Linked DNA regions of Homo sapiens. The protein of the gene in region 1 purifies or fractionates together with the protein of each later gene. This does not show direct contact. Each region holds a gene or a part of one and is shown in the gene's direction. Other genes may lie near its edges.

Region 1 (3,500 bases):
GGTATAAGTGATAAATAAAAATTGTATAATTCAAGTCATACAACACCATGTTTTGATATATGTATACATTGTGAAATGATTACCACTATCAGGCTAATTAACATATCCATTAGCTCACATAGTTACCTTGTTTTGTGGTGGGAATACTTAAGACGTACGCTCAACACATTTTCAATATATATTATTATGAACTATAGTCACCACGCTGTACGTTAGTCTTCCAGAACTTATTCATCTTATAACTGCAAGTTTATGCCCATTGGCCAGCATCTCCCCATTTCCCTTACCCTCTAGCCGCCACCATACTACTCTGTGTTTCTGTGAGTTTCACTTTTTTACATAACACATGTATGTTATGAGCCTGCAGTATTTGTCTTCATGTGTCTGGCTTATTTAACTTCGCATAATGTCTTCCAGATTCAACCATGATGCAAATGGCAGTATTTCTTTTTTAAGGCTGAATAATATTCTATTGTGTATATATACCACATTTTCTTCATCCATTTATCTGTTTATGAGCACTTTTGTTGTTTCTATATCTTAGCCAACCTCTTGACACAATGTAGTTATTCTTTATTAGCTATAGGCCATTAATACAGGGTTTGAATAATATGCTTCTATTTGATTGCTGGGGCTGTGGGATTTTTGCCTTTGTAGCTAAATCAGCAGCAAGTTAAAGTGGTGTAGGTCTGTGAAGGATTGTAACCTCCTCTTCCCCCAAACAAGGGCATTGCTTGTCCAAATATGTGATCATTATAAATGTGTATATGTCTAAATATGTAAGTCACCATAATTGATTGACTGATTGACTTCTAGGAAGACCCTCACATTTATTGCTAGTTCCAGAGGCACTTCTCAAAATGATTCTCTTTTCTTTCAGGTGACATTCACTGTGAACTACACTTTCTTTCCACGAATTTGAGCAGAACAGTGTTGGGAGGCAGTTTTCAGTGTCTGTCCTACCCGCTGGTTGACAAGCTGGCTAGTGTGTTCTTGGAGTTCCGAGTCATAGTGAGAAGGATCTCTGTGTGCCCTTATTCTGCTCCACTTGTGCCCTAGTCAGTTTATGGATAGTGGATGCACAGATCACAGCCTTTTACAAAGGCTAGTGTGGCATAGTGTTTTTAGGCGAGTAAGATAGACTTGCTGTTTTAATATCAGTACTGACATTTGTTAGCTGTATGATCATAAGCAAATTACCTAACCTCTCTGAAGCTCAGTTTTCTCGAAGATTGAAATTAAAATAGGATTATTAGTTTAATTGATTATGTGTGTCATGAGGATTTAATGAGGTAATATATATACATAAAATACCTAATCCAGGGTCCAGTATTAATATTTGGTGTTTATTGTTGAAGCTGCTCAGCCATCACTGTCTTTGGTTGAAGGGAAACAGCTTTTGAGTTCTGTTCTCAACTCAGCCTCATGAGTATGCACAGATTGCTTATTGTTTGTTTTTCTTTTAAGGAAGACAATGGTGTAAAATTGGTTGATCCTTTGGGTGAAATGTTGGCACCATCCTGGGAGGAACATGCCACCTGTTTAGCAAATGCTGAGGAACAAGATATGCAGAGAGTGCTTATTGACATCAGCGAGAAAGAAGCTGTGAATCTGCAACAAGATGCCTTTGTAGTTATTGGTAGAGATACCAGGTGATGATAAGAGTTACTGGTAAAAAAAAAAACCTTTGGGAACGTGATATAAACGATTGTATCAGTTTTAATCCAAGACAAATGGAAAGAAGTAAAGTGGAACTACCCTGAGTTGCATGTCTACCTGCCTGGCCTTTCTAGTAGGATGTAGTAGCTAAGTCACTACTGCAGCTTGGGGTTTGGAGTCTGACTCTGGTTTAAAACCCTACTCCAAAACCCAAGCTGCAGAATAATGTATGTAAAATACTTCCTGACACAAGAGAAGCACTCAATAAATGTCTCCCACCCCCTCTGTAGGTTTATTTTTTTTTCCCTACAGAGTCAACACATGATTTGAACTCATTATTTTTAAAGATTTACTTTGTAATCTGTGTTATTATTGTTTCAAATATTTATATCATTTTCCCATGCTGGAGCTCACTGTAAACTACAATATTATTTTCCACATAGTTCTGTTTTGCAGCTTTTGCCTTTCTTAACAAAAATGTCTTTTTGTAAAATATTAGATGAAAAGTATACTTTGCAACAGTAGCATTTCCTTTTGCATAAGATCTGGTTTTAACCTGAGATTATTTCAAAAGGAAATTTCTACTCAATCTCCAATACCTGGACTGGTTTTTTTACCCTCTGTTGTATTACCAGAGGGTTTTCCAGATACCGACGATGGTAGCAGAGTAACTTATGTTCTGAAGTAAATTATCCCACCACAGTAAAGTCATCCCACATGTATTTGGTTCTTAACTATTAACTAATGTAAGTGATGAAACGTTTTTTCCTACAAGGCAGTTTTTTTATTATTTTTTATTTTTTTGATACGGAGTCTCGCTCTGTCACCAGGCTGGAGTGCAGTGGCACAGTCTTGGCTCATTGCACCCTCTGACTCCCAGGGTCAAGTGATTCTCCTGCCTCAGCCTCCCGAGTAGCTGGGACTACAGCTGTGTGCCACCACGCCCAGCTAATTTTTGTATTTTTAGTAGAGACGTGGTTTCACCGTGTTGGCCAGGATGGTCTCAATCTTGTGATCCACCCACCTCGGCCTCCCAAAGTGCTGGGATTACAGGTGTGAGCCACTGTGCCTGGCCAAGGCAGTTTTGTAATCTGTTTTATTTTCAGATAGATAATTTGTTCTGACTTTACAAAATGGAAAACAGGTTCTATATCCTTGGCAGCTTAATACAAGTACTGTCTTATACACACTGTGTATATTCAGTGTTTATTGTTACTGTTCTTAGAGTTCAGACATGTTGCTGTAGTCGAACTTGAAAAGGTATTTGGGTATGCTGTGGTTAGAGTGTCCTTTATATCTATTTTATAAATTCATTTAAAAGCCAGAATTTTTCCTAGAACTAGATTGTGAAAGGCTACTGGAAAATGCTTATAATTTACCAGTTATCTTGAGAGTTCATAGCTTTCAGTTCAGATACCAGGAACTTACTATTTTGAAATTTGTAGCATGTAATTTTTGCATTTGCTTGCAGAACCAGCAACCCTGCCAGTTTCAGGATGGGATATATTATTTTCTTCCTTTTCTTTCCTAGGCCCAGCAGTGAGAAACTTTCACAATCTGTAATAGATGGTGTGACTGTTCTAGGAGGTCAATTCCATGGTATGTAGTTATCCTGAGTTGGAAATTAAACTAATATTTAAAAAACTTTAATTTACAAAAGTAATGTATATTTATTTAGAAAAGTTTGAAAATACAGATGAACAAAAAATGTTTAAAAAATGAACTCCTAGATACAAAATACTAACTTTAAAAATCATCTTCCAGGTCGTTTCTGGGCAGGCATGTTTTGTCTTACCTATGGTAGTACTATAGGAGATTATAGCTGGGAAATTCTGAACTAA
Region 2 (4,276 bases), on another chromosome or scaffold:
AAAGCAGATGTCATTAGCCACTCTGATACACTATGCTGCTGATTCATAAAATAGGTAAGAGCAGATCGTTTTCTTCATCAGAAATATCTGGAAAAAAAAAAGCCACCAAGCACTGTATGTGTCAATTTCTCACCTTTTTTTAAAAAAAAAAAGAGTGGGCTGCTACAGTGGATATGTTCTACATCTCTTTGGGGCAGTGATTACATACAATTGTCATAACTCGATGGAACTGTCTACAGGATCTGTGTATTTTCTTTTAAGTAATTTATAACTCAACTTTTTTTATGGGAAGCTGTAGTTAACACTGGATAGTTAATACTTGGCTGATAAGAAACCGACTTGTTACAGAGAAAATGAGTCCCTTCCATCTTGGGCACAAAACGGCTCCACAAGACCAGCCTAGCTCTCTGGGCAGGCAGGTAACACTGGCAGGCAGAGGCATGCTCCTTGAATCTCACTGAGGGGGACAAGTGTTAGTGCGAGGCAGGTAGGAGCAAGGCCGCACACGCAGACTCTGTCATCTGGGCAGCTGCCCAATCCCCGTTTTTCATTTGTAACAAAAATAGTGTCCACCTCTTAATAATGTTCTGAGGATTAAGGGCGTTAAGTCGGATGTTTGTTGAAAGCACTTAGGCATAGTAGGAAGTACTAAGTAAATATGTCTTACCACTATTTATTATAAAAGATGAACAGGCTGGCCCGGCGTGGTAGCTCACGCCTGTAATCCCAGCACTTTGGGAGGCCGAGGCGGGCGGATCACGAGGTCAGGAGATCAAGACCTTCCTGGCTAACACAATGAAACCCGGTCTCTACTAAAAATACAAAAAATTAGCCGGGCGTGGTGGCGGACGCCTATAGTCCCAGCTACTCGGGAGGCCGAGGCAGGAGGATGGCGTGAACCCGGGAGGCGGGGCTTGCAGTGAGCCGAGATCGCGCCACTGCACTCCAGCCTGGGCGACAGACCGAGACTTCGTCTCAAAAAAAAAAAAAAAAAAAATGAACAGGCTACTACTACTACTACTACACACACACACACACACACACACACACACACAGAGCCACTGCCTAAAAATCTGGCAATCCTTCCTGACATTTATTACTGAATAACGAACGGTTACCAAACCTGTCTCCCAAATCACAAGACTCTTCCAGATTAAAATGTCTCTCGCCCACTTGGATCCACTCGCCTGTCTAGGACACAAACCCGTGAGGCACCAGCCCCCGTGACAGAGGCAGATTCCAGCTTCGCCTCACGCCACCTCACGCCTCGCGCCAGCCTTCCCACCACTGCCCGCGCAGCCCGCGCGGCGTCACGTGACCTCTAGTTCCGCACCGCCCCCCCCACCCCCCGGCCTAGCTGCCGGATCCCCGCCCCGGCTCGTCCGCGGTGTCACATGACACCTGGACCAGCCGCTGGCCAATCCCCTCCCTCCCGGGTTGCGAGGCATCACGTGGACGCTACTCGCTATCCCCGGCCTGTTGGCTTCTTCCGCGCTGGAGTATCCAGATAGGCGACACGCCGGCGGGCGGCTGAGGCGGGAATGGCTGCTGTACTGCAGCGCGTCGAGCGGCTGTCCAATCGAGTCGTGCGTGTGTTGGGCTGTAACCCGGGTCCCATGACCCTCCAAGGCACCAACACCTACCTAGTGGGGACCGGCCCCAGGTAAACGTCCCTCTCCAACCTCCCCAACGTTCGCAGCCGGCCCCGGAGCCCGGGCTTTGACTGATCGCGGCTGCGCGGGCAGTGGAGAGCGCCGCGTCCTGTCCCTAGCTGGGCAGCCCCGCGCCTAGCAGCCCCGTCGGGACTGCACGCAGACACTCGGATCTCGAAGCTAGCTAAAATACGACCACCCCAGGTGATAGCTCTCTAATTTAGGGAGAAATGGAAAAAAAAAAAAAAAAAAAAAAAAAAACTTCTGTTTTGAAACCCGATTTACTGTTCTTGATGTTTGAATGCCAGGGTGTGCGTGTTTAAACTGTTGAGAAAATTCGGATGTCAAGAGTCCAAGAAAGCGTTTACTTTGCTCACTTGACTTTCACTGGTGTTTTGCCCAGAGTGTAACTTCCCTTCTCAAAAGCGATTAATTATGTTGAGGCGATTTCCTCAACTCAGCAGCAGAGGGCAGGATTCTCCTGGCTTCCAAATTGGTTCTCTGCAGCCTGTGGGCTCATAAGAGGAGCTGACATAAGTAATTTGGGGAAGTTTTTTGTTACAATTGTGTGTGACCTTGTTTGAGTTTAATTTGCAGACACAGTAACACACCTGTATTTCTAAGAAGATACTTTTGCTCTTGTTTAGCTGCATTCTGTTTTAGTGGAATTATGCAGGAATGGGAGATTTGGTTTACTGCATAGTAAGTCTTAGGCATTTAGCAACTTTTGTAGTCTTTACTGGATGAACCCAGATAATGTAGTTTCTCTTGAGCATAGAATTTAATTGTGCAGTCAAGACATAAATTATTTTTAAAATATAATTGATTACTAAAAACGATTTAGTAAGTACAGTTAATTGAGTTTTCCTTGGAAGTGTCTACTGTTTGGCGTTTTTCCAGTAAATAAGAATTTTAGAAGCAGCAGACCTGCAAAGTGGGCAGGTAAAAGATTAAGTTCAGAGTAAATAAGGCAGGGTCAGGTAGTTACCAAAGGTTTAGGCTGCCACCAGAATCTAGGAGGATAGAGAATTAAGCAGGAAAAATGCCAGATCTCTAGGGTACAGTCTGTCTTGGCTGGAAGTCCCTCAACCAAGTAAATCCATAGGCGGTCTCTCTACAGTGTGTCATCTTGAACTAGTCAATACCTCAGACAAAAGATGCATATTATCAGAATTACCCTGGAAAGTCTCTTAGAAGAACACCATGTTGGAGATCAGTGTATTGTCTCAGTAAGTTCAGCACAACCTGCCTTTTTTCCAGCGTTGAAACAGATGGCTGATTCTGTTTGAAAACCAGGTGAAGAAATTGGCTTGTGTTGAGGGGCTATATTGTATGAAAAATACATACTGTATCTTTAAACACTATAATCACACTCAACATAGCAAAGTGCTAGTGCTAAGAGAGACTTAAAGACTAACTGAGGGAAAAGCAGATTTATAGTCTCTCGTCTTAAATTACTTAACACTGTTGCTCACATAAATTAATGGAGTGGAATGGCCAGTGGAATTACTTGCACTATGTAAATTATTTCTCCATATAGTTGAACTAGAGAGTCCGTATAGTTGAGCTAGAAATAAGTGTAGATAATGCTACTGTATAAAGTAAAAGGTGTAAAGTAAAAGGTGGCTAGAAGTTAATATTAATTGGCCCCTTGTCAGATGTTCTGAGATTGGTATCCACCTGTTCCGCTTCACAAAACAGTTCTAAGATCACAAGCGGCTTTTGTATCACTAACCCCAATGGTATTTTTCTGTTCTCATCTTCCTTGAACTTCAGTGCTTTGACACCATTGACGACTCCCTCCTTAATTTGCCAACACCACATTCTTCAGGTTTCCTATTACCTCTTGAGCTGCTCTTTCTCTTTCACCTTGATAGAGTCATCTTCTTTATCAAATCTTTAATTATTTTAGTTATTCAGTATATAATCCTCATCTCTCATGTTCTTCTACTGTATTCTCTACCTAGGTGATCTCATCTACTTATTTGGCTTTGCCTTTATTATCTGTTTATTATTAACTACCAAATATATAGCTCAAGTTCAAATTCCAAACTTGATCTTCAGACTCAAGTAGCCAACTTTTAAATCTATTTGCATGACTCACTGCTGCCTGGAACTCAGTGTTTTCCATACTGAACTCATAACCTTTCCAGAAAACTGCCAGGTCCTCCTTCAGTTGTTCATATCTTGATAAACAAAGCCATCAAAGGAAATGCCTAAATACCCTTCCTGACATTTATTTGCTTCCTACTGCATATCCAAGCCATTATGAAGATCTGTTCATGTCCCCTGCTGTCACTCAGTCCAAGCCAGCACAACTCTTGCTTAGGCTACTGTAATAGCCTCCTAATTGGCTTCTGTACGACTACCTCTGTCTCTCTTCAATCCAATCTTCCCTTTGTAGCCTGAGTGGTATTTTAGGAATTAAAACTGGAAGGCCTTGTGTATTCTGGCCTCCATCAGTCTTATCAGGCTCCTCTCAAACCTCTCCCACTCCAGCCATGCTGGCCTTCTAGTGTCTCAGATGAGGTTTGTGATTCCCTGTCTCAGGGCCTTCACGCATGCTTTCCTCTTTCTTCCACTCATTCCTCCCTTCTTTACCCAGCTAATCTCATTCATCCTTT

Evidence for each region. The genes of interacting proteins can lie anywhere in the genome.
Region 2: the proteins of PGM3 (region 1) and LACTB2 fractionate together in Homo sapiens (co-fractionation; one large-scale study listed by BioGRID). This does not show direct contact.

What each region holds. Positions count from the first base shown.
Region 1 is NC_000006.12:83,186,766-83,190,265, reverse strand, and holds part of PGM3 (phosphoacetylglucosamine mutase), read left to right. Parts: intron 1-1,467; coding exon 1,468-1,652; intron 1,653-3,190; coding exon 3,191-3,258; intron 3,259-3,500. UniProt on the Homo sapiens protein: Catalyzes the conversion of GlcNAc-6-P into GlcNAc-1-P during the synthesis of uridine diphosphate/UDP-GlcNAc, a sugar nucleotide critical to multiple glycosylation pathways including protein N- and O-glycosylation.
Region 2 is NC_000008.11:70,666,386-70,670,661, reverse strand, and holds the start of LACTB2 (endoribonuclease LACTB2), read left to right. Parts: upstream 1-1,476; 5' UTR 1,477-1,541; coding exon 1,542-1,663; intron 1,664-4,276.